Linked DNA regions of Homo sapiens. The protein of the gene in region 1 interacts with the protein of each later gene in a pairwise test. Each region holds a gene or a part of one and is shown in the gene's direction. Other genes may lie near its edges. The genes, in order: DZIP1, PPP2R5A, PPP2R5C and MECOM.

The links.
Region 2: the proteins of DZIP1 (region 1) and PPP2R5A interact in binary tests that used the Homo sapiens proteins (3 or more experiments, as listed by UniProt).
Region 3: the proteins of DZIP1 (region 1) and PPP2R5C interact in a two-hybrid assay, tested with the Homo sapiens proteins (one study listed by IntAct).
Region 4: the proteins of DZIP1 (region 1) and MECOM interact in a two-hybrid assay, tested with the Homo sapiens proteins (one study listed by BioGRID).

The regions. Positions count from the first base shown.
Region 1 is NC_000013.11:95,634,771-95,642,545, reverse strand, and holds part of DZIP1 (cilium assembly protein DZIP1), read left to right. Parts: intron 1-304; 5' UTR 305-516; coding exon 517-552; coding exon of another isoform or gene 553-690; coding exon 691-1,251; intron 1,252-7,775. UniProt on the Homo sapiens protein: Molecular adapter that recruits protein complexes required for cilium assembly and function to the cilium basal body.
Region 2 is NC_000001.11:212,341,488-212,349,262, forward strand, and holds part of PPP2R5A (serine/threonine-protein phosphatase 2A 56 kDa regulatory subunit alpha isoform), read left to right. Parts: intron 1-700; coding exon 701-793; intron 794-4,315; coding exon 4,316-4,446; intron 4,447-5,859; coding exon 5,860-5,919; intron 5,920-6,901; coding exon 6,902-7,010; intron 7,011-7,701; coding exon 7,702-7,755; intron 7,756-7,775. UniProt on the Homo sapiens protein: The B regulatory subunit might modulate substrate selectivity and catalytic activity, and might also direct the localization of the catalytic enzyme to a particular subcellular compartment.
Region 3 is NC_000014.9:101,878,223-101,885,997, forward strand, and holds part of PPP2R5C (serine/threonine-protein phosphatase 2A 56 kDa regulatory subunit gamma isoform), read left to right. Parts: intron 1-3,938; coding exon 3,939-4,049; intron 4,050-5,034; coding exon 5,035-5,127; intron 5,128-5,209; coding exon 5,210-5,340; intron 5,341-7,775.
Region 4 is NC_000003.12:169,113,015-169,120,789, reverse strand, and holds part of MECOM (histone-lysine N-methyltransferase MECOM), read left to right. Parts: intron 1-4,050; coding exon 4,051-5,407; intron 5,408-7,775.

The DNA.
Region 1 (7,775 bases):
AAAAGATGAGGATGAATAGATACTACTTTTTTTTTCTTTTTCTATTAATGATGGAATGAATAGATATTTCTAATTTCAAAGCCTAAGGCCAGGGCTACAGTGAATAAATAACCAGGGGATGGCAGTTAAGACCAAAGGTTCCCAGGGATGTGGCTCCCCACGCCTGCCTTAGGGACATGGAGTGTCCAGCCCCAAACGCCAGGGAGGGTGGCGCCCTGGGGAGCCGGTACCCAGGAGGTACCCTCTTCGGGTGAACGGCTGTGTCCACTCGGGCTCGTCCAAGAGGTCTTCTCTGGTCCCGCAGGGTTCTGGGTGCACGCTGACCCTGCGCGGGCAGACGCGCCCTTTGCTCCAGGTCCGGACCTGGGCGCTGCTATAGCAACGTCCTGGACGCCCAGACCTTAGGCCGCCGCCGCCGCGGAAGCGAGGAACCCGGCCTTCTCCCGCTCCTGAGGGCTGTGGCGGCGGCGGCCCGGGAGGCGGCCCAGGCTGGGTAAAGACCGCCCGGCTCCTCCTATGCAAGCTGAGGCAGCGGATTGGTTTTCAAGCATGGTAAGAGGCGGGAGGCCGGGGCGCCCCCGACGGGGATGCCGGGCTGGGGAGAACCGGGGCTTCCCCGGACCCCCAGCTCCCCAGCCTGCCCGCCCCCCATCCCCGCCTCCCGCCGCGCTCTCTTTGTGCCCCCCGCAGCCCTTCCAGAAGCATGTCTACTACCCGCTCGCCAGCGGCCCAGAGGGGCCCGACGTCGCTGTGGCCGCCGCCGCCGCGGGTGCGGCCTCCATGGCCTGTGCGCCCCCCAGCGCGGCTTCGGGGCCCCTGCCCTTCTTCCAGTTCAGGCCGCGGCTGGAGAGTGTGGACTGGCGGCGGCTGAGCGCCATCGACGTGGACAAGGTGGCGGGGGCTGTGGACGTGCTGACGCTGCAGGAGAACATCATGAACATCACCTTCTGCAAGCTGGAAGACGAGAAGTGCCCACACTGCCAGTCGGGGGTGGACCCGGTGCTGCTGAAGCTCATCCGTCTGGCGCAGTTCACCATCGAGTACTTGCTGCACTCACAAGAGTTCCTCACCTCGCAGCTGCACACCCTGGAGGAGCGGCTGCGCCTGAGCCACTGCGACGGCGAGCAGAGCAAGAAGCTGCTCACCAAGCAGGCGGGGGAGATCAAGACGCTCAAGGAAGAGTGCAAACGCCGGAAGAAGATGATCTCCACCCAGCAGCTGATGATCGAGGCCAAAGCCAACTATTACCAGGTGGGCAGCTGTGTGTGAGCACGATTCATAATCCAGTAAACAACTCAGTTCCCATTTGATAGGCCTGTCCCGTATCACCACTCTTTCTTCTTAAAGATTTATATTGTATATCAGAAGACACAGTATATTTAAGCAAAAACAGTCATTTAACCAACAAATGTCATGGTTCATTACCTTCTGCAGACAATCAGGGGATTAATAATTAAACAACAAATGTCGTCTGTGGTGCTTTATGGAAGTTATCTAAATGCTGGTTGTTGAAACACTTTCCTCCTCCGAATCAACCTCAACATGAAAAAACCATATACAAATTGCTGTTGAAGCCAGTCCCCAAACGATGCAGAATGTTTAAATTTGTAGGGTCTTTTTCTCATTTTTATAAATTTTGAAATACTTTCAAACTGACAGAAAAGTTGCCAGGAGACTGTAAGGAATTTTCATGCGCCCTTCACCCAGATTCCCCCATTATTAACATTTTCCACAGTCCCTCTATTTCTGTATACATATTATTATTACTTTTGAACCATTTCACAGTGAGTTGCAGATCCTAAATATTTCGATGTGTATATTTTCTAAGAACAAGAACATTCACTTACATAACAGTATTTAAAGAATAAAATATTTTTATCTTCTGGTCTTAATCTTCTACTGTTTTGGGTTAGACATTGAGTCCAAGATAAATATTGCAATTTTTGAGTATAACATAAACCAATGTATTTTTTTTTTATTGACTAGTTGGAGGAAGTGCAGAAGGTATAAACAATGATTGAGAAAGATATTGAAGTAAGCAACAGATTAACAAGATTGATGTCATGCCCTTACTTTCTAGTCCTTTCGGCTGACTATGGCTTAAAAGGCCTCACTGGATTTAGGAATAGTGGAGCTGATGCATGAATGCTGGAGAGAACTGGGTGCAGGGCAGAGAAAATGGTGCAGTTAATATTGCTCAGGACTGACCCAGCAGGAGTGTTGAGTGTTCTTAAGATAGGGGAACAGTGGCCGGGTGCAGTGGCTCACACCTGTAATCCCAGCACTTTGGGAGGCCGAGGCGGGCGGATCACGAGGTCAGGAGATTGAGACCCGAGACCATCCTGGCTAACATGGTGAAACCCCGTGTCTACTAAAAATACCAAAATTCGCTGGGCTTGGTGGCATGTGCCTGTAGTCCCAGCTACTTGGGAGGCTGAGGCAGGAGAATCGCTTAAACCCAGGAGGCGGAGGTTGCAGTGAGCCAAGATAGCGCCACTGCACTCCAGCCTGGCAACAGAGTGAGAATCTATCTCAAAAAAAAAAAAATAAATAAAAATAAAAAAGATAAGGGAACAATTAGGAATATTATTAGAAGGACTTAGTGTTTGGTCTTGGGTAGACAACCCTGAGGTATAATCTTCAAATGACACTGGGCATTGCTAATTGCTTATTTGTTTTATAAATGCTGCTTAAAAATTAAATATTTACAAATAGTGCTAAGATGGTTTTTTTCTTGTGCAACGAATATAATGGATTCTATTTAAACATTTTTAAAGATTTATTATAGTCCAGCTTTAGCAGCCATCTAGTGAAATGTTAAAACCTCTAACATACAGAAATTGTATGTTTATAAACTTTTTTTTCCTTTTTTGGGGTTACTATAGAAATGGCTGTTATAAGAGAAGATTTTCTTTCTTTCTCTTTCTCTCTCTCTCTCTTTTTTTTTTTTTTTTTGAGATGGAGTCTCACTCTGTCGCCCAGGCTGGCGTGCAGGGGTGCGGTCTTGGCTCACTGCAGCCTCCTTCTCCCGCGTTCAAGCGATTTTCCCACCTCAGCTTCTTGAGTAGCTGGGACTACAGGTGTGCACCACCATGCCCAGCTAATTTTTGTATTTTTAGTAGAGACGAGGTTTCACCGTGTTGGCCAGGCTGGTCTCAAACTCCTGACCTCAAGTGATCCACCCACCTCAGCCTCCCAAAATGCTGGGATTACAGACGTGAGCCACCACACCTGGCCTAAGAGAAGATTTTCAAATGTGAATGATAAGTAATGATTAAAAGGTAATGACTCAATTTATCAAATGAGTGACACCTACTACTTTTTCAGCTACCAGACCTTGGCAAGTTGCTCAACCTCCCTGTGCCTCAGTTTCTACTCTGTGAAATGGGAATATTAATTGTACCTACCATATAGCAGTTGTTAATGGGGATTGAATGACTTAGTGCATAGACTGTGCTTAGAGCAGTGCTTGGCATGTAGTTAGTTATTGTTTTAGCTAATACCTGGGAATGAGGGAAAAACGTTTTGTGGCATGACAAATACTAAAGCTGACTTACTACAAAATGTGAACAATCATATGACTGCTATCATGTGAGTTTTTCTTTCTTCCCCTATACAGAAAATCCAAAGCCTAGACTCCTTGTTCTGACACAATGATTGGGTCCACCGCATTATCAGTTTTACCTTTGAGAAATTGTGGTCTCATTCTCATTCTCATACCACTTCTCTTTGTCTCTACTCCCTTTGCTTTAAGAAATCATAAGAACTGAGTAGCTGAGACAAAAAAAAATTAAAGATGCCTGTTCTTGAAGGCTTGAAGACACAGACAGACAGACACACACACGCACGCATCCTAATGGGTTTTTTCCCCCATGGGGTGTGCGTGTGTGTGTGTGTGTGTGTGTGTGTTGTGTATAAGGGGGGTAGTGATGGCAATGTGTAAGGTCTTTTTCCTCAATATTTTATTTAAAAAATTTAAAATGCAGAAAAATTAAAACAACAATATAGTGAATACCCATATATGGGGGATTTTAAAAGAAAAATCTCATCGATTTTCAAATAAAAATTAGTACTGAAATATTATAAACATACAAAAAAGTGCATAGACTAATGTAAGACATACCATATACCCACCTCTTAGATTTAACTCAGGTTAGGCTGGGCGCAGTGGCTCACACCTGTAATCCCAGCACTTTGGGAGGCCAAGGCAGGCAGATCATCTGAGATCAGGAGTTCAAGAGAAGCCTGGCCAACATGGTATAACCCCATCTCTACTAAAAATACAAAAATTAGCCAGGTGTGGTGGCGCATACCTGTAATCCCAGCTACTTGGGAGGCTGAAGCAGGAGAATCACTTAAACCCAGGAGGTGGAGGTTGCAATGAGCTGGGATCACGCCATTGCTCTCCATCCTGGGTGACAAGAGCAAAACTCCATCTCAAAAAAAAAAAAAAAAAAAAAGATTGAACTCAGGTTAGCATTTTGCTATATTTCCAAGATAGCAAAATGTTTAAAGAGTTTTAAACATCTTAGAAATAAATAATTTTCCCTTCCTCGATTCTCAGAGAAAATCTGTTTGACTATATCCTTCCTATTTATGTTTATGAACATATAAAATATTTTTATGAACATATGTATTCATAAGACAGTGTTTTTAAGTTTGAAAATTTTCTATAAATGATATTATACTTATAGATCTGTACTAATCTGCCAAGGCTGCCATAAAAATAACACAGGTTAGATGGTTTAAACAACAGAAATGTATTTTCTCACAGTTCTGGAGGCTGGAAGTTGAAGATCAAGGTGTCAACAGGGATGGTTCCTGGTGAGGCCTCTCTTCCTGGCTTGTAAACAGCCACCTTCTTGCTATGTCCTCATCACATGGCCTTTTCTGTGTTTGGAGAGAGAGAGAGAGAGAGAGAGAGAGAGAGAGAGAGAGAGATCGCTAATGTCTCTCTCTTTTTCTTTTTTTAAAGTGAAGGGGTCTTGCTATGTGCCCAGGCTGGCCTTAAACTCCTAGGCTCAAATATTCTTTCCGCCTCAGCCTTGCAAGTAGCTGGGACTACAGGTGTGAGCCACTGTGCCACACTTACCCTATCAGATTAGGCCCCCCGCCTTATGATCTTATTTAACCTTAATTATCTCATTAAAGGCCTCATCTCCAAACACAGTCACAGTTGGAGTCAGGGCTTCTCTCCCAGTTTGGAGAGTTACACTATCCAGGTTGGTAACATTCACATTCTCTTACTCAGCCATAATGTCTTACTTGTTTTTTTCATTGGTTTTATATTTATGTGCTCATTCAAAATCCTTTCACCTCAACATCTCCATTCTTGAGTTTCTCATTTTGAATTATCTCTTAATTCATAGGATTGTCAAAATGATTTGTCTTACCCAGAAGGCCCAAGAGTGCTGCATTTCTTCAACTCTATCAAGTTTGAAAGACATATTGGATGAAGAATATTCTTAGTCACACTTTCCCTCTGAACTTTTTGATGTGGTTCCTTTGTCTTCTGGCAGTAAATGTTGCTGTGAGAAGTTTGAGGGTGGCCTAAAGTTTTTTTCTTGTGAGTGACTTGCTTTTTCTGCCTGCATGACTGAAGAGTCCCTTCTTTCTGCTTGAAGCCTAGTAGCTTTCTAGGGTATGTCTTGGTGTTGAGTGTTCTGTATCAGTTTTCCCTGGAACCTGGTGAATTCTTAATCTGCAGATTCAGCTTTCACTGCACTTCAGAGAAACACTCTTGTATTCAGTCTTTAAATTTTGTTTCATTTTTGGCTTCTCTACTTCTGGGAAACCAGTTACCTTTATGCAGTATTGATTTTGTCCATTAGTTCTCCGTACTCTTTGGTTTCTTTCTCATTGCTTTAATTCTTTCCTTCTAATCTACATTCACTGTGATAAATTATGTCAGCCTTTCCTTTAGTGAGCAATTCAGTTTTCAACAGTGTCTCTTTTATTCCTTGCTTTCTCTTTTCTTTTTTTCTATTTTTTTTTTTTTTTTTGAGTCAAGGTCTTGTTTTGTCACCCTGGCCCCGAGTGCAGTGGCGCAATCTTGTCTCACTGCAACCTCCACCTCCCAGGTTCAAGCGATTCTCCGGCCTCAGCCTCCCGAGTAGCTGGGATCACAGGCATGTGCTACCACATCTGGCTAATTTTTGTATTTTTAGTAGAGACAGGGTTTCGCCAAGTTGGCCAGGCTGGTCTCAAACTCCTGACCTCAGGTGATCCACCCACCTTGGCCTCCCAAAGTGCTGGGATTACAGGCGTGAGCCACTGCACCCGGCCCTATTCCTTGCTTTTTCTTATTTATTTGTTCTGCAATGATGTTTCAGATCTTTTTTTTTTTTTTGTATTTTATCTTTCTTTTTAAACTCATTCTGGTTTTTTAAAAAATCATATCATTTTTATAGAATGTATGCTACTCTTATGTTCTGTGATGTGAATAGATTGTGAAGAACATCTTTAGATTCCTTTCTTAATTTATAGATCCCCTGCAGTAAGCTTTATTTTTGCATGCCATGTTTTTCCTCCCTTTTCCTCCCTCCCTCCCTCCCTTCCTTCCTTCTTCCTACCTTCCCTCTTTCCTTCCCTCTTTCCCTCCCTACCTCCTTACCTCCCTACCTTTTTTTCCCCTCCTCCCTTTGACAGGGTGGTGTGTTTGCATCCTCTCCATCATCACTGTGCATTTCTCTCATCTTACACTTACATGGGCAGCCCTGCTGAAGCATTCTACTTGCCCTGATAGAGTGGCCGTATTGCAGTTTGAAGGCTGGATGGTCTCTGTCTCTGTTAGGAACAGTATCGTTAGAACACCTTCTGGCAACATGTGAACTCTGGGGTGGGGTGGGGAGAGAGGGAGGCATAGCTTCCTCTTCCTTTCCTTTCTCCAGTGCTGTACACAGCCCGAGAGCCTATATGACTTACATCAGAGCTGGTGTGAGGGGTCCCTAAAGTTCTATAGGTGAACCAAAGCTGTCATGAGCCCGGGAGGTTGAAGAGATGCTTTAGGGATTCTCTGAGATGCAATACCAAGAAATATACCAGAATATGACTGGGCACCGTGGGTTACACCTGTAATTCCAGCACTTTGGGAGGCCAAGGTGGGTGGATCATTTGAGGTTGAGAGTTCGTGCCCAGCCTGGCCAACATGGTGAAACTCCATCTCTACTAAAAATACAAAAATTAGCTGGGAGTGGTGGCGGGCACCTGTAATCTCAGCTACTCAGGAGGCTGTGGCAGGAGAATCGCTTGAACCTGGGAGGTTAAAGCTGCAGTGAGCCATGATTACGCCACTGTACTCCAGCCTGGGTGACAGAGGGAGACACTTAAAAAAAAAAAAAAAAAAAAGGAAATATGCAGAATGTTAGTTTTAGAAACCAAAGCCTGAAGTCTGGATGCAGTTACACTGATTAAGAGTAAGGCAGCATGGTGAACAAAAGAACATGTTCAGTGACACAATGGGCATGAAAAGAGCAAAATCCAAATGGAGGGAAACTCTGCAGGACAAGCTTCAGCCCCTTCAGCAAAAGGATAGCAAGGAAAAAAAAGAGGTGGAGGGGAAACCTATAGACTAAAAGAGTGTTAAGAGACATAACCATCAGTTACAGGATAGGGATAGGGTCTTATTTGGATCCAGTTATTAATAATTATTCCAAAACAAACCGAATGTTTTTTCTAAGACAATATGTGAAATATTAGGGAAAAATAATCAAATTAATAAAAATTAAAAATTATCCAAATAGTTGAATATTTGTTTTTTAAAAAGGATTTAATTT
Region 2 (7,775 bases), on another chromosome or scaffold:
ACTCTGTAGTGATTAAATTGAGGTAGGTAGTAGTCCACTGGGAAGGAACATCTTCCTAGTGAGTATGGATTACAAAATAGGAATATATTTAATTAAGAAATATTTAATTTTATAGGCATTGTCCTTATTTTCTAGCTCCTGTAATTTAACGTTTTGCATCAAGTTATGTAAAGCAATAAATAAATCTCAAAGTTTATCAGCTTAGGAAACCAAATGGTGAATATATAGTTTCTAGGTTTGTTTGTTTATTTATTTATTTATTTTTCAGACAGAGTCTCACTCTGTTGCCCAGGCTGGAGTGCAGTGGTACGGCACAGTCACGGCTAACTGCAGCCTTGACCTCCAGACTCAAGCAGTCTTCCTACCTCAGCCTCCCAGTAGCTGGGACAACAGACATACGCCACCATGCCTGGCTAATTTTTTGATTATTTGTATAGACAGCGGTCTCACCATGTTGTCCAGGGTGGCCTCAAACTCCTGGGCTCAAGGGATTCTCCCACCTCAGCTTCCTAAAGTGTGTTGGGAGTACAGGTGTGAATTTTTAAAAAAAATTTTTTTTATCAACTCATTACATTTTATAATGAGATCTGAAATCTCCCCACTAAGTTGGTAAGAAAAGGTGTGTTTTTAATATGAAGTGATTATTTAGGGTAATATTCTGTAGCCATCATCTTAGCCTTTATTTGACTTTCTCTCATAGTTGGTATATGAATTCTTCTTGAGATTTTTGGAGAGCCCTGATTTCCAGCCTAGCATTGCAAAACGATACATTGATCAGAAATTCGTACAACAGGTAAGGAACTCTTTTGTCTTAGATTCTCATATATTCATCTTAGCAATGATTTATTAACTTATTATTAAAATAGTGTAGTCTTTCAAAACTTTAATGGTTTAATTTGACAGCACTTAATATTACTGCCAAACCATTAGAATAAAAGTGAAGTTAGCTCTGAGAGTACAAGAGTATTTTTATCAAGGGTGAGAGTCTAATGAAGTCAATCAAATTATCCTATTTAATCCTAAATTATCATAGTTATTTTATAAATACCAGAAAAACAAGCCTTTCTGCAGTATCTGAGAAAATGTGGTATGACCATTCAATCCATGGGCAAATCTTTGTTTTACATTTGTAAGTCTTTGAACTTGACATATATTTTAAGCATTGGGACTTTGAAATGACGGGGGAAAAAAGGAGTAGAATCATTGTGAGGAATTTGGGCTTTAGGCTCCTTTCCTAAGTATCAATTACCTTTTCCTTTTTCTTTCCTCTTTGCACCTAAGCCCCACCACCCAATTCCTAAACCACAGATAAAGTGGAATCATTAAGAACGTAAGGAGGTAGAATTAATTGTGATGCCTTCTTTTTTTTTTATAAACTGCTTATTAGCTGTTATTTTTGGAACCTACATATTCACAATTTCTAAGAATATATTCATTTTCAAAACCTTTTCAAAAATTTAAAGGCCTCTTTTTTTTTTGAGAGGGAGTCTTGTTCTGCTGCCCAGACTGGAGCACAGTGGTGCAACCTCAGCTCACTTCATCCTCCGCCTCCTGGGTTCAAGCGATTCTCCTGCCTCAGCCTCCCAAGTAGCTGGGACTACAGGCACACGCCACCATGCCCGGCTGATTTTTTTTTTCTATTTCTAGTAGAGACGGGGTTTCACCACATTGGCCAGGCTGGTCTTGAACTCCTGGCCTCAAGGGATCCTCCCACCTCAGCCTCCTAAAGAGCTAGGATTACAGGTGTGAGCCACTGCACTGGCCAAAGGCCCCTTTTTAACTATATGGAATTGGCTGGCCCCAAAGAAAATTGTGAAGTAGACCAAACCTTTCTAGGCATTTCTAGGCCTGAGTATGCAGGCCTCTTTAGGAATTTGATGCTGAGGCCAGGATTAAAATCATTGCAAGGACCTTTCCTACCCTTCAGACCGCTTTGTATGTGCCCTATGATAAAAATTCTACTAATGTGAGTTTGGTATATTTAGAGCTGATCTTTGGTCATTCATAACTACCCTTGACCTCATATAAAGTATTCTGACCTGTTGCTGTGAAGGATTGATAAATGAAGAACATTGTCAGCCTAAAATATTTCCTTCAACCATTGAAGTAGCTCTTCATAAACTATAAAGAAATATTAGGTGTGTATTAACAGTAACATATACATTTTAATCATGACTAAAAATTACATTAAATGGAGTTATGTTATTTTGGTAATTGCAAATGAATGCCTGTTTATTTCCTTGTGCAGCTCTTGTGTGGGATACATTAGGGAGCTCTAGTAATGCCATATGAAATTGTATTTAATACAGTAACAGGTTGAGGGGAACAATTGCCTTAGTGCTTTGTTAGTCTAGAGCTTGAGGTATTTAAGCTGCTGTATTATTTTGTGGTGTGAGGGGAGCAAAAAGAAAACTGGTGGGGCAGGATCTGTTTTCTACCTTCTACTTTAAATGCTTGAATTATCTGAGAAGCTAGGGCCCAGTAATTGCTTTTAGCAGTTTATATGGCTGTTTTGCTCTTGTTGCCCAGGCTGGAGTGCAGTGGCTGGATCTTGGCTCACTGCAACCTCGGCCTCCCAGGTTCAAGCGATTCTCCTGGATCAGCCTCCCAAGTAGCTGGGACTGCAAATGTGCCGACATGCCTGGCTAATTTTTGTTTGTACTTTTAGTAGAGACAGGGTTTTACTGTGTTGGCCAGGCCGGTATCAAATCCCTGACCTCAAGTGATCCGCCTGCCTTGGCCTCCCAAAGTGCTGGGATTACAGTTGAGAGCCACTTTGCCCGGCTGCCATTTTTAATTAGAATAATTTGATGTGAACTTATTAGATATATTAACAAAAATTCTCATACTCCGTAGATATTTTTTGCTGGAGTCTCATGAGGGCCTTAACAGCCTAGCAAACAAAGAATGGAAACTATAAGTATGGCAGTTGTTTTGGGAGATATAAATATGATTTAAGTCATCCACTCTGGTTTCAGATGCATGTGTTAGCAATTGTATATAATTCAAAACAAAATGGAATAAGAACTTCTGATGAGGTTCAGAGCTTGCTATCTTTATTGTAATTATAAACACGAAAGTTCAGAACATAAAATTCCTTGACAGCTTTACAGATACTTGTACTCTAGAGAGAGTATTTTATATTTTTCTAAGAAAATCCAATGTTTAAAATACAGTGTTTTTTTTGACAGAAGAAATTAAGTTTCTTTACCATTTTAAATGGAAATTTGAGATTTTGACTTTAACTTTTTCTAAAGTCTCTTCTCTCAGGTTTTGCTGAAAAGTTGTGCAGAATATAGGAGTACACTGATTGGGCCAATTGAGGTATAGGAGAGTGCTGACTGTGGAACTGGTTTAAAATTTTTCAGCTATTTGCTAAGCTGAAAAATCTATGGGCTGGGCATAGTGGCTCACGCCTATAATCCTGGCACTTTGGGACACCGAGGAGGGTGGATCGCTTGAACTCAGGAGTTTGAGACCAGCCTGGGCAACATGGTGAAACCCCGTCTCTACCAAAAAATATATAAATTAGCTGGGTGTGGTGGCATGTGCCTGTAGTCCCAGCTAGTTGGGAGGCTGAGGCAGGAGGATCTTCTGACCCCAGGAGGTCGAGGCTGCAGTGAGTTGTGATTGCATCACTACCCTCCAGTCTAGGCTACAGAGCAAGACTGTCTTAAAAAAAAAAAAAAAAAAATTTGGCCTCATCTTTTAGTCCAGTGTTATTTTATATATGATTTCTACTCTATTAGTATGTATCTGCCAATATTTTATTCTAATAACTGAATGTTAATTTTTCAAATGTCTGCATGGTAACTGTCTTGAATTTATTGTAAATTCACAAAAAGAAGTCTTAGTATATGTACATCTTTCTAGTAAACTAGAAATATACATTTACACATGGATCTTTTTAAGACTATTTGATGACTTGCAATCTAAAAACTTAAACGATTTTCTATGTAGTTTTGACGATCAAAAAGCATTAAAAATCCCAAATTTTAACACTCCAAAATTGTGAGCCTCTTTAGTATTCAAGAGTAGGATTGAATTTTAAAATCAGTGGGAAGGTAAAGAAAAATCCACTTTTTGAAATATTTATATTTATTGTAAATGTCATATTTTGAAGTGAAATAAGTGAGAAGAAATATTTCCTAAGCTTTTCCTCACCTTCATTACTTAGCAAGAATAAAGTCAGTGTGGTAAGGAAGAACTCTAAAAAATTTTTAAAAGATGTCATGGATAATCTTTAAGATCAAAATTAGAATAAAGCTTTAGCTCGATTATTTTTTAAAAGTAATTTCTCAGGTTTCTTTTAAAGCTCCTGGAGCTTTTTGATAGTGAAGATCCCAGAGAACGTGACTTCCTGAAGACTGTTCTGCACCGAATTTATGGGAAATTTCTTGGATTAAGAGCATTCATCAGAAAACAAATTAACAACATTTTCCTCAGGTAAATTAATCATTTATTGTATATTGCACCTTTTCCTCCTACATATCTTCTTGTATTCAAGTTCTTTTATTTTTATTTGTTTTTTTGAGACAGGGTCTCACTCTGTCATCCAGGCTGGAGTGCAGTGGTGAGAACATAGCTCATTGTAGCCCCCATCTCCCAGACTCAAGCAATCTTCCTCTCTCAGCCTGCCAAGTAGTGAGACTACAGGTGTGCACCACCACGCCTGGGTAATTTTTTTGACTTTTAGTAGAGACAAGGTCTATGTACTGTATGTACGTAGTATATATATGTAACATATATATGTAACATAGTATATATGTGTAACATATATATGTAACGTAGTATATATGTAACATACTATGTATGTTGCCCAGGCTGGTCTTGAACTCCTGAACTCAAGCAGTCCTCTTATATGGGGCCTATCATTTGCTTGTAGTCATCCCTCAGTATCTGGGGAGGATTGATTCCAGGGCCCCTGCTAATAGCAGAATCCAAAGTCCCTTATATAAAATGGCACAGTATTTGCATATAACGTCCACACATCCTCCTGTATACTTTATTTCTAGATTACTTACAATACTTAATACAGTGTGAATGCTGTGCAAATAGATGTTATTCTATATTTTAAATTTGTATTTATTTTTCAAAAATATTTTTGATCTGTAGTTGGTTGAATGCACAGATAATGAAACCTGCGGATACAGGGCCAAGTGTACTTTATAAATATTAATCTGTTAAGTAGTTGCTTCAGATCAGGAGATTTCATAACAACACCCACATTCAAGGTTTGGTTTGTTTAATTAATTGAAGATCTGGCAAAATTTGGTTACTATTCCCACATTGCAACAATTAGAGATGAGTAATATCTGCCTCCTCTAGAGTGAATATCTTTCTCCAGTTCTCTGTCATCACTTCCTAAGCCCATTTCAAATATCTGCCCTATTATATTTATGTCTCCCTGCTTTAAAGGCAGCCCTAATCTTGGAAAGCTATGCAGCCTATATAGTTAGAGGTGTAAAGAAATTCTGATTAAAAATGGCTTTATTACATATGGGTCTTTTTCTCTTGGATTTCCCTATAATTAGAGGTTTCTTATTTTAAAAAGTATTTCTTTGAGGAAACTTATCTTTCTTATTAATTATTAAGTTGAATATTCCAGGTGAAATGACAATCTGTTATCTTCACATATGGCGAGTTTTGGCAAAGGCATATGTAGTTCAGTAGGAAACATCTTCTTTTTTAAGATTGATATGAATTAACTGTTTGGGGCAAAACTGCTTATAAGACCCAAAACATGCTTGTGTGTTTCTAATAGCTGTCCTTTGGATTGATTTCTTCACCCTCCTGCCTGTTTCTCTTAGTTTTCTGAAGTTTGATTTTGATTACATCTTGTCTTTATTTTAAATTCAGGTTTATATATGAAACAGAACATTTCAATGGTGTTGCTGAACTTCTTGAAATATTAGGAAGGTAGGTCAGGTTTTTTTGTTCTTTTTAAGAATTAAGTAAGTGAATGTTTTATGTATTAAAATCTTAGCTGGGGTTGGAGAAATTATGTCATATTTTAGAGTTTAAATGTAGAACACATAGTTTCTCAACTGAAGTCTTTTTTTTTTTTTTGAGACGGAGTTTCGCTCTTGTTGCCCAGGCTGGAGTGCAATGGCGCGTTCTCGGCTCACTGCAACCTCTGCCTCCCGGGTTCAAGAGATTCCCCAGCCTCAGCCTCCTGAGTAGCTGGGATTACAGGTGCCTGCCACCACACCCAACGAATTTTTTAATTTTTATTTTTAGTAGCGATGGGGTTTCACCGTGTTGGCCAGGCTGGTCTTGAACTCCTGACCTCAGGCAATCCACCCCCTTCGGCCTCCCACAGTGCTGGGATTACAGGCGTGAGCCACCATGCCCAGCCTCAGCTGAATTCTTATTACCTTTTGCCATAACACTTTGCCTTCCTTATTCACTACGTATTAGTATTAAGAGAATTTTAGACCCTTCTGTTACTATTTAGACAATGATTTTAGTTTCCTTTATTAATAGTAGAAAATGATTGTGGAGAGAACTACTTCTTTCACGTTATCCAACAAAGTAAGAAAAATTACCCATTTACTTCAGAAAAATATTGAACATTCTAACAATATTGTGGTACTGACTCTCCTGGAGCTTTGGGGGCAAAAATAAAAGCAACAATGCATAAAGTGACAGGTTTGATAGAAAATGAAGATAGAAATTACTTGGGAATTAATTGACAGTCCTAATTTTCTTTTGGAATCATCAAATGACTTAGAGGAACAGACTTCATAGTAATAGTCTTCCTAAAGTAGTTTGAAGATGAGCAGTCATACAACACCAGGATTGAAGCATAGCACTGTTCCTTATGTACTCATGGATATGACAGCTTTTAGAAACAAAGTAGTAACTACTTAACCCTTCCCCTGCCTTTTTTTCCCTCCAGTATTATCAATGGCTTTGCATTGCCACTGAAAGCAGAACATAAACAATTTCTAATGAAGGTTCTTATTCCTATGCATACTGCAAAAGGATTAGCTTTGTTTCATGCTCAGGTAAGTTTCAGAAACATTTCAGATGAAATGAATATTATTTCAAAGGCCAATATAAAGGCAGAGAAATTGAGAAATACTGAGATGACAGTTTTAAGTATAATTAAGCAATTTGCTTACAAAATTACCCAAAGCAAATTTTTCTTATTTTAAAGTATTTAGTTGTTAAGTAAGACCAATTATTTAATTTCTATATCTACACTTACAGTTTAAGATACACACTTTCCTCATATTATAGTCCAGGTCTTGACCTAATTATGTGACTTTGAATAAATCCCACATATCTACAGAATGTTTCTTCCAGCTGCAATAACCTAGACCTAGTTAGAGAGATTTTGGTCTCTTCTATTAATATTTAGAGAATAATATATCAGCATAGGTGTACATGTAGAAACATGCTGAAAAACTAAATTGTTAGCTCTAGTCTTATTTCAGTTAACTTTATAGTCAGAAATTACTACTAAAAATGTTTTTTAAACTTGAAGTTACTTTCAAGGCTAAAAAGTTACACAATTGTGAGTATAGTTTCACGATTGAGGTATTTCACAATTTCATTCACAGTTGTGAGTATATTTTTATATATTGGAATAATTTATCAAAATGAGGTAGTCTAAAAAATATTGGCTAAATATAAAAATCCTACATTATTAAATGTTATCTCACTAATATTTATAAACTGTCCCTTACCTTTTAGCTAGCATATTGTGTTGTACAGTTCCTGGAGAAAGATACAACACTAACAGAGCCAGTAAGTGTTCTATTTATTTT
Region 3 (7,775 bases), on another chromosome or scaffold:
AGGACCCATCTCCAAATCCAGCCACACCAGGGTTTAGGTCTTTAACATGAATGTGAGGAAGGGAGGCCACAAGCATTGAGTCCATGACAGACACTGAAAAGAGGACATTGTGTTCAGAGCAAGCCATCTGAGTCACCTTGCAGGCCCTCAGCTCAGCATCAAGGATTCAGTGAGTGTGCAGGTGTTTGAGACGGGGCCTAGCTGCTGGGCTGACTGTCACTGTGCGGGAGAGCTTCAACTGGAAACCCTAATCACTAGCTTTCCTGCTAGTAGAAACCACCAGTTTACTTAGGAATCTCAGCTGACTGGGTGCCTCAGTCAGGGCTGTGCAGAGAAACAGCAGGAGAGACAGAGATTGAGATCTCAAGGACTTGCCTTCTGCAGTGGGTGAGTCCAGCGGGCAGGTCTGGACTCCGTGGACAGGCAGCGGGCACGAGACTTGGCCGTGGTGGACACTGCAGGCCGCAGGTGGACTCTCCTCAGAGAAGCTGCAGTTTGGGTCTCACAGGCCTCTCAGCTGACTGGTTGAAGCCCCCACATTCTCAAGAGTGATCGCTACTTGAAGTCCATTGATTATAGGTGTTAACCACATCTATAAAATGCCTTCACAGGAACACCCACAGCAGTGTTTGGACAGCTGGGCACTGTGGCCTAGCCGGGTTGACACATACGGCCAGCTGGCACAGTCGGGGACATTTTACTTTTTTTCAGTTATCGCCTTTAACCACGATGGGTGAAATCACACTTTCCTGTGCCTAAATAACATCTTAGGCAAGTTGGTTAACTTCTTAGTCATCCCTGGTCACAGAAATCCAATCTAGGTTAAAGCTTTCATCTCAGACCCTCTGCAAATGGCATCTAAGCCGCACCCCAGGCAGCCTGGCCAGGGAGGGACATGCTGTGGGAGAGGAGGGGAAGCAAGGGTGGCTCCGAGCCCCTCTTGCCCGCCCTCCCCCGGGGCTTTGAGCAGAACCCAGAGCAGAGGGGAAGGGCAGCTGCCTGTTCTGCTCAGTTGCTCCCTGTGGCCTCGGCCAGAATGGTGGTCTCTTCCTCTGTGGCATGTCTGTGACTCTTGGGCAGCAGGCCTCTTCCAGAGGGACGGCTGTTTCCTCTCCCCCAAGACCTACAGCCTCGTCTCTGGGTGAGCTGACCCCTCTCTCCCTTGGCAGCTTCCTGGGCGGCGTGGCCCTACGGCTCCTGCTCTGGCCTCTGTATCCCTGATGGGCAGCCCCAGAAACCTCGGAAGCAGTGACCGTGCTTTCCTTCCAGGCGCCATGGTTCCTCAGGCCCTGATGTCACAGGCTGTTCCCAGAGTCTCCTGCCAGGCATAGTCCTGTTCACAGATTCCTCTGCCACCCAGAGTTCGTGCCCAGGCTCTGCCCTCCCCACACTGTGCTCTGCCCCTGTCGGCACCAGGCCGGGCCCACAGCTCTAACCCACCGAAGAACAAAGTGCCATCTCCCTTTCCTGAAGGTGACCCTGTCCTGTGGGTGACTGGACCCTCACCCCAGTCTCTTGGCTTTGAGAGAGAGGGTAGAAACCCCAGTTCACGAATGCCACACTCCCCGTAGGAGCTAAAGACTCAATTCAGACTTTCCTTTCTCTGCCCTTCATGGCCCTGGAAGTTATGGAGAGCTTCAGCAGTGGCTGCTAATGACAGGACCCTGGGAGGACATGGCGGCCTGCCCAAAGTGTGTGTGTGTGTGGCCTTTCCTTAATAGTTGAGCTTTTAGCATCTGCTTGTTCACGTCTGTGGGCTTTGGGGTCAGGGTGCCAGGAGGGGCAGACTAGACCCCTGTCTGCGCCGAGTGCCTGTGGGCCAGCAACTGAGGCAGGGCCGTCCACCTGTCAATCACCGTTCTTTGGGAGGCTCCTTGCAGTGCCCTATACACACACTAGCTTCACAGAGGAGGGGACAGTCCCTGGAGAGTAGACATTGCCAGAAATTATAACACCAGTGAGAGTCAGGTTAACTCTCGGTTTTAGATTGCAAACTTTTGTCTTTGTACCTATGTCTTAGGAACATTACTCATACTTTTACTAGAAGTGTTTTTTAATTAGTTGTTCCTGGCTTTTCAGCCCCTTTTTTCATCCCTGCGTTTCTACAGTATCCGTGAAGGCCATTACAGTTGGTCTTTACGTCAGCTCCCCTCTCAGATGACACAGAGAACAAGCTCAGATGCTTGATACTCAGATGCTTGATGCTCAGAGCTTTTATAGCTGATGACTTTCTGAAAAATGATATTAAGGTTTGGAGTTCAGTATCAATACCAGTAAAGAAGGGAAGAAACAGGCAGGTGCGGTGGCTCACGCCTCTAATTCCAGTACTTTGGGAGGCCGAGGCAGGAGGATTGCTTAAGCCCAGGAGTTTGAGACCAGCATGGGCAACGTAGCGAGTTCTTGTCTCTGCAAAAAATAAATAAAATTAGCAGAGCATGGTGGTGCGTGCTGGTAGTCCCAGCTACTTGGGAGGCTGGGGCAGGAGGATCGTGTGAACCCAGGAGTTGGAGGCTGCAGTGAGCGATGATGGCCACTGTACTCCAGCCTGGGCAGCAGAGAGATGCCCTGTCTTTAAGAGGAAAAAAGAAAAGGGAAGAAACAGCAGTGGTGACATTGAGTATTAGCTTGGTCTTTACAAGACTGGGTATCTAAAGCCAGCCAAGTTTGCCCTGGACTCTCTAGAAACATCTTCTCGTTGTTATCGTAGAGTCAGATTTTAATCTTTTATGTCAAAGGTTTTGATTTTGTGCTTCTGAGAGTGGTGGGACTGGGGTTGTGATCACCTATAAGAGCCATTCACCAGAACCCAGTTATATAACTGGCATACGATCCGTTCAGAGATTCAATAAGGTAACCAATCATATTTAGACTTAGTATAAAAGAGGGTTGGGCATGGTGACTCACGCCTGTAATCCCAGCACTTTGGGAGGCTGAGGGGAGCGGATCACTTGAGGTCAGGAGTTTGAGACTGGCCTGGCCAACATGGTGAAACCGTGGTGAAATCCCATCTCTACTAAAAATACAAAAATTAGCCAGGCATGGTGGTGCACGCCTGTAATTCTAGCTACTCGGGAGGCTGAGGCACAAGAATCACTTGAACCCGGGAGGCAGAGGTTGTGATGAGTCGAGTTCGCACCACTACACTCCAACCTGGGCCGCAGAGGGAGACGTCACCTCAAAAATAAATAAATAAATACATAGATTTAGTACAAAATAAAAATAGGTTATAAATGTATGACATGGAAACAGTAATCTTTTCTGTTTATGTCACTGATCTGTCAGTATGTGTTATACAAGTCCAAACAGACTGAGAGAAATCTAACAGCCCATGCCTGGGCGCACAGCCATGCTGCCCCTACCGATCCTCTGTGCCCCTGAGCAGTCCTTTCTCTGGAAATGATCTTAGCTGCCGACTCAAAGGTCGTCCCACTCTGACTGTTGCTTTCCTCATCGTTGCGGATTGCAGAGGATGTTGGTGCCATTGTCACACGGGTCCTCCCTGCGTGACGCAGCCCTTGCCATTTCCAGCATTTTCAGCTGTGAATCTCTGCTGCGTCTTTCGTCATCTCATCCCTTTCTTACTCTCATTTTGAGCATTCTCCTTGGTCTTGCACCCACTGGATAGTATAAGACCTCAGAAGTCATCACTGTGCCATCAGCCTTTGTTGGTGTTGGTTGTCATTCAAAGTTTGACAGTCAAGAGTCCAAGTAACTTTGGTGGTCAACTTGCGTGCGCACCTGTCCAAAGTGATGTTTCCTGCTGCAGTTTTGATCCAGGCTCTCTCTGAGGACCCACACAGCTTCTGCGTTTTGAGGATACGGAGGAGCTAAGTTACCATGGGAAGCGGCTACTGTTAGAATTACCTAAGACTTTATAAAATGTTGTCTGTAAATATTTTAAATGCCCTGATTGTAATTATAGAATATGTGGATTTTAGTTTGCAGTTAACATGTTTCGAACATTACCACCTTCCTCCAATCCTACGGGAGCGGAATTTGACCCGGAGGAAGATGAACCAACGTTAGAAGCAGCCTGGCCTCATCTACAGGTATCGGGCTCTGGGTGATAGACTCGGAGGGCACTGGTGACACATGGGAATGGCCTGGGATCCACAGAGCGGGCGCACTGGTCTGGCCAGATGGACCTCTCCTCCTCAGTAGCATGGGCCTCGTAAACCCATATGTACAAGAAAAATATTTCAGCAGAATAAAGTTAATGTGTGTGTTTGACCACTTTACAACAGCCAGTGAAGATGTGTAATTGTGAGTATGTTCTCAGTGAAGATGGCCGCTGTGTTGATGGCCGTTGAATTGAATTCAGGCCCAGAGGTCCTAAGCCAACAATCTCCCAGTTTTTGCTCCTCATATTTAATAGGTGCCTGCTGGGCCCCCAGGTCCTGCGCTGGCCACTGCCTTTCCCCAGGGCATTTGTAAGGCAGAAGGTTGGTTGGCAAGGAGGCGCCAGGGTCGGCATGAGCAGAGCGGGGGCCAGGTGTGCGGGTGGGAGGGCCATCCATCCGTGACAGGCGGCCCACGCTGTCCCACCCAGCATGTCTGCACAGGGAAAGAATTGTCCCAGCTCCAGGAGGTCATGATTCTGGGTCCACATCTTAGGGCCCTCTTACCTGGCAGCCCCAGAGTTCCTGTGTATTTGGTTGGCTCTGCGCCTTGGCATTGTGGGACACTCCTAGGCGACAGGCTGCAAATCCCCCCTGCAGAGTTGGGTCATGGCTTGGTTTGTGGCATCTGTGCCCTGTAGTCCCTGAACAGTGTACTATAACTGATGACATCAGCCATGGAGATCATTTTGTTTAAATGCCGTTTAAGGGTGTAGTCTGTGGGTTTCACCAAATAAAATAATTACCATCACCATTTATCATTGAATTAAGCCATGTAATTTAGCATTAATTCTGTAGATATGTGGCTTTGAGAGGCTAATATTTGCATACCAATAAAGATTCAATTTCTGGTATATTTTAACCGCCATTCAATAAAATCTCATGTTATTTGACTCATTGTTTTTTTTCCTCCTAGCTTGTTTATGAATTTTTCTTAAGATTTTTAGAGTCTCCAGATTTCCAACCTAATATAGCGAAGAAATATATTGATCAGAAGTTTGTATTGCAGGTAAGGTACAAATTAGCTGACACTCTGAAAGCCCTGATGGAATGATGACACCCAGCCACTAAGTGTCTTTTTCTTCTCAAAGCTTTTAGAGCTCTTTGACAGTGAAGATCCTCGGGAGAGAGATTTTCTTAAAACCACCCTTCACAGAATCTATGGGAAATTCCTAGGCTTGAGAGCTTACATCAGAAAACAGATAAATAATATATTTTATAGGTAAGTCACGTGTGGATGGCGTTGTCCTTGTGTGTGGTGATGCTCATTTCCCCCCTCGATGCTCCCCTACCCCATCGTCTCCTCTGACAGGACTCAGCATGTGGAGGGGGTTTCTCAAAGCCTATTTGTCATGTGCAGGTGGACCCCCTTGTGCACTGTGTGCAGGGGGCTGCTGGGCTCATCCTCCCTGCCTTCCTCCCCTCTCCCCACAGCTCCCTCCTGAGCCACCAAGCTCCCCAGCGCCTCATCCTGGGTCCCTCCATTGTTCCTGTTTCTACTGAAAGGTCAAGTTTCCTGGAAATGTGGATGAATTGGTTCCATCCAGACCAACTGTATTAGTGAAGGTTCTCTAGAAGGACAGGACGCATAGGATAGATGAATATATGAAGGGGAGTTTATTAGGAGAGTTGACTCACACGATCACAAGGTGAAGACCCACAATAGGCTGTCTGCAGGCCGAGTCCCAAAACCTCAAAAGTAGGGAGACGGACAGTGCAGCCTTCAGTCTGTGGCGGAAAGCCCAGGAGCCCCTGGCAAACCACTGGTGTAGGTCCAAGAGTCCAGAAGCTGAAGAATTTAGAGTCCAATGTTCAAGGGCAGGAAGCATCCAGCACAGGAGAAAGATGGAGGCCAGAAGACTCAGCCAGTCTAGCCCTTCCACGTTCCTCTGCCTGCTTAATTCTGGCCGCACCGGCAGCTGATTAGATGGTGCCCACCCAGGTTAAGGATGGGTCTGCGTCTCCCAGTCCACTGACTCAAATGTTAATCTCCTTTGGCAACACCCTCACAGACATACCCAGGCACAATACTTTGCATCCTTCAATCTAGTCAAGTTGACACTCAGTATTAACCTTCACACCAGCTTTTTCCTTCTACCTGTGCATCACCTCATTCTTCCCGTGGAGTCTCAGTGAGAGGAGGCGGGGCAAGAAGTGATGTCATTCATCTGTAGAAAGCCTGAGATCTGTGCACCTCGGTTAAAGGTTTGGAGACTCCCACTGTGCACCAGGGGAGGGAAAGCCCCGCTGGAGCAGCCGGTGGAGGAGGACAGAGTCCAGTGGCAGGCCCACCTCCAGGCCCGCCCCTCCCCAGCCAGCCTCTGCTCAGCTCCAGGCTCCTTCCACGCCAGGGCTCTGTAGCCAGTGTTGGAGCCTCCTGGAATGTCTTTTTTACACCAGCCCTTCCCTCAGCCTCCCAGGCTTCCTGAAACATCCCTTCACTGGGAGGCTCTGCCTGACTTGGCGGTGGGTCTGGTCTCCCGCAAGGGCAGCCACCATGTCAGTTGATTTGTCGCACGCCCCACCCCACTGCCAGTTTCGTGCTCCCCACTGCGGTGGCACCAAGTGAATGTCAATAGAGGAAACAGTTCCTGTTGTTTCTTTTTGTTCCTGGAAAGTTCACTAAATGAGCAGTTTCTTCTACAAGTTACAGCTTCTCTGGTCAGCTTGCCTCTAAGGCATCTGACTCCAGGATGTTGCGAGGTAGTGACACATCCTGGTGATGGTGGGGACGGTATGATGGCGTGTCTCTGTGAGATAAGAGCATGAGCAGGTCCCACACAGCCTCGCTGCAGGGCCAGGGTGTGGACAGAGCACGGGCCATGGCCTGGAGAAGGGGCCAGGTGTCAGCCACGCCCAACACGGGCCTCGGGGTCCTTTCTTAGTCACAGTGACCACGGGAAAAGAAAAGGGGCATCTGAGACAGACAGATGGCAGATGAGACCCCCCCTGCCAAAACCCACAGCCCTGGCCCCTCCCATCCCGTGCCGGCTTGCACAGCCTGCGTCGGGAGCACCCTGCCTTTCCGTCTGCAGTCATTAGGGCCCGCAGCCCCGGCCTCTCCCATCCCGTGCCGGCTTGCACAGCCTGCGTCGGGAGCACCCTGCCTTTCCCTCTGCAGTCATTAGGGCCCACAGCCCCGGCCTCTCCCATCCCGTGCCGGCTTGCACAGCCTGCGTCAGGAGCACCCTGCCTTTCCCCTCTGCAGTCATAAGGGTTGCATTCCCTCCTGACCTGCACACCTGATAGGGCATTTCGGCGTGAGAGCCTTTGATTTTGCGTGTGGCTTTCCTTTGAACTCCTTCCAAGTACCCCACATCTCGTTTGTAAAATGGAGCCCGGTGCTGGACATAGCCCAGACCTGACACATTAACTATAACAGAGAATGATGTCACTTTCCTAAATGTTATGTTTCTATTTTATGTTTCTTGGTATCATGATTCCTTTTTAACAAGATCATTACTTGCCTGGTATACTTATCTATGAAAACATAATATACATTATTTAACATACAACAGGTACAATTTAAATTTCCAGTCTTCTTGACCTAAAATTAAAGCTCTACCTAACATATTTCTGTTTTCTTAATTCTAGTAGGTTTTGTTCAGATAGCAGAATCACAAATCTATTGAACATCTGCATTTAAGAAGTAGAAAA
Region 4 (7,775 bases), on another chromosome or scaffold:
CTCCACAGGTTGTAGGATTTAATCAGGACAATCAGATTTGTCTCATATTGTAAATGTTCATGGCTTTGTAAAGCAGCAAATAGCAGCCATCACTAAACAAGATGAAGTGATTAAAAACCTGTTCTGGATCAGAAAGAGCTGGAAGAAGCCCACCTGGGAAGTAGGCTTACGGCTCTGTGTGCATGTATGTGAGTATATGTGTGTGGAGAGAGCGAGGGGGATGAAATGCTTTTTAATCTACCCATTGTTGCCGATCACAGGCTGTCGGATCTGTAGTTCTCTGTTACTTGAAGAAAAGCAGAACATTTTCACTTAGATGCTGGACATGCTGTTTCTCTTACCCACTGCACCAAAGCAAGTTTATAGGCAGTGTGCTTTTAGGGGACATCTGATCTGACCACCTACTTAGAACATCCCTGTACAGAGCACTGTAGTAACATCCTTCAAATACAATAAAACTCAGCTCTCATTTGCTTTTTCTTCTCTCCGCCCACTCCTATTCTCTGTATTGTGCTCAAACATTTTATAAGTAAAATCAGTTGTTCTTAGTCTACCTGGGCAAAAAATCTGGGCTTCTTTTAATCCATTGCTTGGCGGGGCATATAAATACAATGACTTATTGAGTTGTGCTACAAACGTCAAGACTGATTTTGGACCCAGATACACATAGAATTGGTTGAAGCATACTCAGCACTTGGCAAGACCTCTGACTTTGGTTTGTAGTAGGTATATGAGACACTACTACAGGACCTGATGGAAAAAACTATTTTTCAGTGCCAACATGGAGATGCCAGAGACTAACTCTCCTTTGCCTCGACACAGCTTTCTTTTGTGTGTCCAAGCACCAAAATAGCTTTTCTTTCCTTTTCCAGCTTACACTAGAGTCCTGTTTTGCTCATATGCTCTTCTGTTCCCCGGGTGAAGAGGACTAGCAGATTAAAAAAGGGTGCTCTCATCTCCCTTGGGGAAGCTCTATTGAAGGTCACGGGAAATAAAGCATTCAATAGAAATTTTAGACTTCTTGTCGCAAAAAGGCATTCCTGACTCTTAAGTCTTAATGCCCTGAAAATGTACTTGGAAGTACTACAGGCATACGATATTAAATAGTTCATTTATTTCTGATTCCTCAGAAATAAATTTTGGTAAGTTTTATTATGTTTTGATGTGAGAAAAAACTAGAATAAACCACAAGGAATTCTGATCACTCATTTAATGCTTTCTCTATTATTTAAAATAAAAGTCAGAAAATATAGACTTCTGCTATCGAAGATTCTGGGATCTGGAATTTTAATTGTGTTGAAGACAAGTGTTTCACTTTAAAGTGCCATAGGGTGTCCCTTTCCAATCAGATTGCATAAAGTATTTCCCTTGAATGTATTTTCAGTAATTATTGGTAAATTTAAATAGCAGATGGCATTCTTCAAATTTAAAATCTGCCAGAGAACCATGGAGTAATTATGAATAATAGCCATGTAATTTCAGAACAAAAGAGATTAAAGATCAGGAAATGGTGTGGAGACTTGAGTGGAGGAGGTTCACCTAGGGCTGATATCTGTTTCTCACCAGAAGGCCACACACCACGATTTACCCCCACTGGTGTGTTTATGGCAACTGTCTCTTATTACAGTGTGCTGCCACGCTTGAGCCCAAAGTCACCAGTGCTAAGGTAATTACTCACTGCCTTTACAGAAACCTACAGCTTTCCCAAATAGAAACCACATGCTCTAATAGGCTGAATATATTCAAAATGCCTCTTAATTTGTTTAATAAGTAGAAAAATGCAATGTTAACTGCTGGCTAATTCCTTATTACTGAGAAAATTACAGTAGAGTATAAACTTCAACATCAATTGAACCAGTTTACCTGGAGGCCTGGTAGTTTGTGGTATGCCAGGCCAGGCCTTCAAGTGCCGAAAACAAAGCCTCTGCCTAAGAAAACATCCCAGATTCGATGTTCTTGAGCCCAGACACAGACAGCACTCAGCCATGTAACAACGGGTGCCACCAGAAAAGTCAGCTGAACTTCTGTTACTCCAATAGAGAGAAGCTCTTGATTTTTTTTTTTTAAGCCATCTGATTGTAAGAAAGAAGTGTAGAGAGCAACATTTCCTTGCCAAAAAATGACAAGTCTTTGAAAAACTTATGTCTTGGTTGAATACTCATCAAGACATTTTTTCAATGCCTTTTAAGAGGTGTTGCTTTCTTACTTTTTATAATTCCAATAATAAAATATTGTTATTGCTTGTAGCTATAAATTATTCTAATATATCTAGTAAACATCTGATGTTTCTACCTTCTCCATTATTTGATTTTAATTAGTGTATCAAACAGTTTAAATTAGATGTATATTTATGGTGTATGGTTAAATTGTATATACTTTTAAAGCTGACTCTGGTCGATATATTCTGGTAAAATAATTTGAAAAGATATCACCCACATCTTCTATTCCCATTAAAATGCATGTTACAGCCTCTGTAACGTTGTGATTCATCCCACAATTGAAGGCACCTTTAATATTACCAAACACTTTGATATATGCAACAATACACTTTAACCTTTAGTAGTAAAAGAAAGAGATATACCCTTACTTGGTACTTCCTGTTTGGATGTATGTGGGATAATCCAAGCTCTGGGTGAGTTTTGCTTGACTGAAAGTCTATAAAATCTCCTTGACATGAGTTTTTTTTTTTAATTATTATTGCTTTGACTTAGAAGCACAATCATTCTGCACTTAAAGGCAGCCATCATATGAAAGCAATAACTGTTGCATTTTGTCTTCAATTTAATTTCTTAAAATAAATTTGCTTCAACAATTACCAACAAGGTACATCTTGTTTCTGCATGTATTGAACATGCACAGAAGTGTTAAAATAAGCTCACACATAACGTGGCTCAATCCCGTAAAGTAAAATAAAAAATGTGATGCTCAGGGTACTGATACTGTAATACTGCTGGACAGTGAAGTGAGTGATTCTTACCTGGTAAAGGAGTTATTAAGGGTTACAAAGTTTGGTCTTAAAATATACTTGGCTATAGTGGCACATGTGTGAGGAGGAAGATTCTACTTTATTGACAAATTCTTAGCAAAGAGGCATATTTCACAGCTGCATCCAATGCTGTGCCCTTCTTTCTGGATTAGAGCTTTCACAGTGCTCTCCCCTACTGAGCATAGTTGGCTATAACACACAGAAGTCAAGCCTGAGATAACCAGTGTAGATATGACAACAAGTGGACATGTTTCCCAAGGACGGGGTTTTCATAAATGCAGGAAGGTTAGCACAACCACTGGTGTGAGGGGAAGTCAGAGGACGTGATCATAGTTCATGGGAACCAGCAATGCAGGATGGGCTACATTCAATTTAGTTTCCTTTGCAGGCTTAAAATAGAGCCATTGTAAATTATGTCAGTCTTTCTCAAATCATGAAAATGATTGTTAAAAAAAGTCTCAGAATACACAATGTGCATTGTTGTGTGGCTTTGATGTGTGAATGATGAGAGCATATGATATAATACCAATTAAATAATAGCAGGGCAGTCACAGGCTTTTTCCCCAAGGGGAGAGGCAATAAAGGTGAAGTTTCTGGTTGAGGATATTTTATTTTGTTTTGGTGCCTACAAAATAGAATTTTTAAGTACTCTAAAATTTGAAAGGGGTTCTTGTTGTGTTTTGTACGTAATGCATTTTAAGACTAATTTTCAACATTATATTAGTATAATAATTGTGTGGAGAATCAATGCATGATGGAATTTAACTTTTCATAAATATTTAAATACACAAATATTATGCAAAATATTGCACAAGGGGGTGACAAGATATATATATCTATATATATGAAATATTTGTGCTGCCTCAAGACATTTGTCAGGTTGGTTGCCTTGCTTTGGAATCTAGTGAAATGGGGTTTTCTGTGTTTGGAGCACCCAGATTGGTGCCTCCAATGTCTTTTACTGGCTTCCTAATTGAAATTTTGAGTAAACCAATTGTGATATTTGCTAAATTCAGAAGCAATTGACATAAAGCCTGAGATTCTTTTTTGTTGTTTGCACACAGGTGAGGTCTGCCATAAATCCTATACTCAGTTTTCAAACCTTTGCCGTCATAAGCGCATGCATGCTGATTGCAGAACCCAAATCAAGTGCAAAGACTGTGGACAAATGTTCAGCACTACGTCTTCCTTAAATAAACACAGGAGGTTTTGTGAGGGCAAGAACCATTTTGCGGCAGGTGGATTTTTTGGCCAAGGCATTTCACTTCCTGGAACCCCAGCTATGGATAAAACGTCCATGGTTAATATGAGTCATGCCAACCCGGGCCTTGCTGACTATTTTGGCGCCAATAGGCATCCTGCTGGTCTTACCTTTCCAACAGCTCCTGGATTTTCTTTTAGCTTCCCTGGTCTGTTTCCTTCCGGCTTGTACCACAGGCCTCCTTTGATACCTGCTAGTTCTCCTGTTAAAGGACTATCAAGTACTGAACAGACAAACAAAAGTCAAAGTCCCCTCATGACACATCCTCAGATACTGCCAGCTACACAGGATATTTTGAAGGCACTATCTAAACACCCATCTGTAGGGGACAATAAGCCAGTGGAGCTCCAGCCCGAGAGGTCCTCTGAAGAGAGGCCCTTTGAGAAAATCAGTGACCAGTCAGAGAGTAGTGACCTTGATGATGTCAGTACACCAAGTGGCAGTGACCTGGAAACAACCTCGGGCTCTGATCTGGAAAGTGACATTGAAAGTGATAAAGAGAAATTTAAAGAAAATGGTAAAATGTTCAAAGACAAAGTAAGCCCTCTTCAGAATCTGGCTTCAATAAATAATAAGAAAGAATACAGCAATCATTCCATTTTCTCACCATCTTTAGAGGAGCAGACTGCGGTGTCAGGAGCTGTGAATGATTCTATAAAGGCTATTGCTTCTATTGCTGAAAAATACTTTGGTTCAACAGGACTGGTGGGGCTGCAAGACAAAAAAGTTGGAGCTTTACCTTACCCTTCCATGTTTCCCCTCCCATTTTTTCCAGCATTCTCTCAATCAATGTACCCATTTCCTGATAGAGACTTGAGATCGTTACCTTTGAAAATGGAACCCCAATCACCAGGTGAAGTAAAGAAACTGCAGAAGGGCAGCTCTGAGTCCCCCTTTGATCTCACCACTAAGCGAAAGGATGAGAAGCCCTTGACTCCAGTCCCCTCCAAGCCTCCAGTGACACCTGCCACAAGCCAAGACCAGCCCCTGGATCTAAGTATGGGCAGTAGGAGTAGAGCCAGTGGGACAAAGCTGACTGAGCCTCGAAAAAACCACGTGTTTGGGGGAAAAAAAGGAAGCAACGTCGAATCAAGACCTGCTTCAGATGGTTCCTTGCAGCATGCAAGACCCACTCCTTTCTTTATGGACCCTATTTACAGGTAAGCGTGTATGGAAGATGACGAAATATGAGCAGATGTATGAAAGGCGGTATTTCCACTGTAAAGTGATGGCTTTTTAACACATCATTTTTACTATTATTATAAAACAGAGTGAAGTTGTTTGATCTAGTGAACTCATTTTTTATTCTGAAAGTTGGATCATTCTGTTTGAACTTATTTTTGGATGTTTCTGAAGTTGGGGGTTTGGAATAGGCCTACAGAATTTTTTTCCCTTGACAATAAATTTATTTTTAAACACTTTTTTTGGAGTGGAAAATATGGGAAAGTCATATTTAAAGTAAATTGTCAAGTGGCGGAAGAATGAGGATCCTGAAGGATTAATGCAAATATGCGTGGGTACTTAAATGGGTCAGGTTCTTTGGAATGGGGGGGATATCTAACAGCAAGAGTCCACTCTTTTTTGACCTACCAACACATCCTTAATAAGGGCTGGTCATATTGTTTCTAAATAAATCTCTCAGGAGCCCCCAAGTAAATGAAATATTAATCACAGAATATGTTTTGTATATAATATGAGTAGTTGGCTTAAAAAATGTCTCTGTTTAATAGCTTCATTATCCGGTTTCCTTTGATGTAGCAAAAAAATCTTGGGGTGAAACATACAAGTTTAATAAAAGGCCTTTTTGGCAATATTCAGTAATATTCACCTGACCAAAGTGATTTAGTTTTAAAATACTAGTTTTCTTTAAATGGGTATGAATAATAATATGTTTGTTACATATTTTGAATATTACAAACATTTTCACATTTACTTTCTCATTCTAATCTTGAACATTGTCAAGAGTTCATGGAACATCTGGATAATTTTTTATTGAACTTATTTAACATCGGAGTATTTTCATATTTTGCCTAATTCTCTTTCGTGAAGAGAAAATGTGCTATTATTTAATTCAACAATATTTATCAAGTTCATATTACTTAATAGGTACTAGAGCTGCAAGTTCTTCTCACTTACAATTCTTCTTCTATGTATATTATCTATAATGCGTTAACAAGGAAACACTGTCAGTATGGAAAGGACTACCCTCGTTTGAATATGATAAAGTAGTATCAAAGGACAATACAAAATAACTCAGTGCTGTCAGTACCAAGTTTGGCTGCTTTTTAAAATTATTATATCTCAATTAGTTTGGCAGTCCTGTTACCAGAGAAGGAAAAAAAAGAAAAACATGTCTTCCGTGTTTTGTGTGTAGATTGTATGTCACACATTTCGGGTAAAGTCGTATTTCCAACTCAATGATGTGTCTCAGTCCTTTGTTAAGATAATTTTTCAGGCTTTCCTTTTTGTACCCTCTCAGTAGCAACTGGCTTCTGATTCTTCCACATATCTCTTGCACTCATCCTCATCACCTACTAGCATTCCTCTTACTCACTGTGATCTCCAACATCTCTCTGGTGCTTGTCTCAATTAAGACCTAGGCCTGTCATTTTGCCAAACTCATGAAAGACCTAGAATCCAGTTTTAGTGTCAGACTTGGGTTGCAACCTCAGCCTTCTCATGTCTGAGACTTAAAAAAAAAGCATAAAATGGATATAACATCACCTACTTCAAAAAGTGAAATAGTATATGCAACACACATATATCACATATATAATATCAATAAGTGGTAGGTATTTTATTCTGCTTTAAGAGTGCACATATCTAAAAGTTTTTTTAATTACCAAGTTGGTAAAAGAAATTAATTCAATGAATTAATTCAACATAGGGATATTATTTCCCTATGTGCTTAATACAAAATAGAATGGCAAACATTTCTAAAGCAGAAGGGATATATAGGTAAGTTTTATGTGTCTCTCTCTATCTTCAGAAAGCTCCCCATTCTCTTCTCACCACACCCATTCTATCTGCCTGCCTTCTTTATCAGCAGTGGCATCCAAAGAGCATATATTCTCTCTCTCTCTCTGAATATATATTAAATATAATTTACATAAAATATTTATATATCAATATATTATGCTATATGTTTAAATATAAATATATATTGAGAGAGAGAGAACCTCAAAGAGTGGCTAGCAGTGTATATGCTTGGAAATGCCCTTACTATTATTGACAAATATGGAAGGAATAAAGTGCACATTTGGGAGAACACCTTCTTGGTAGAAAATTGCTCTAATATTCAAAATCAGCCTTGACCTCATGATTTCAAAATCATTAAGCATTCTTGTCTACATTTGGAATGGAAAGGTACTGAATTCATGACAAATGCCTCTAATTTAGTGACTCCTTATTTTTCATGTTTTCTCGTTATTCCTATTCCTAGTCATTCAGTAGGGTTTTTCCATTATAAATAGGAACTTTTCTTCTTAAGCACCTAGAAGTGTCATGAGGAATCTCCAAGAACTGGAC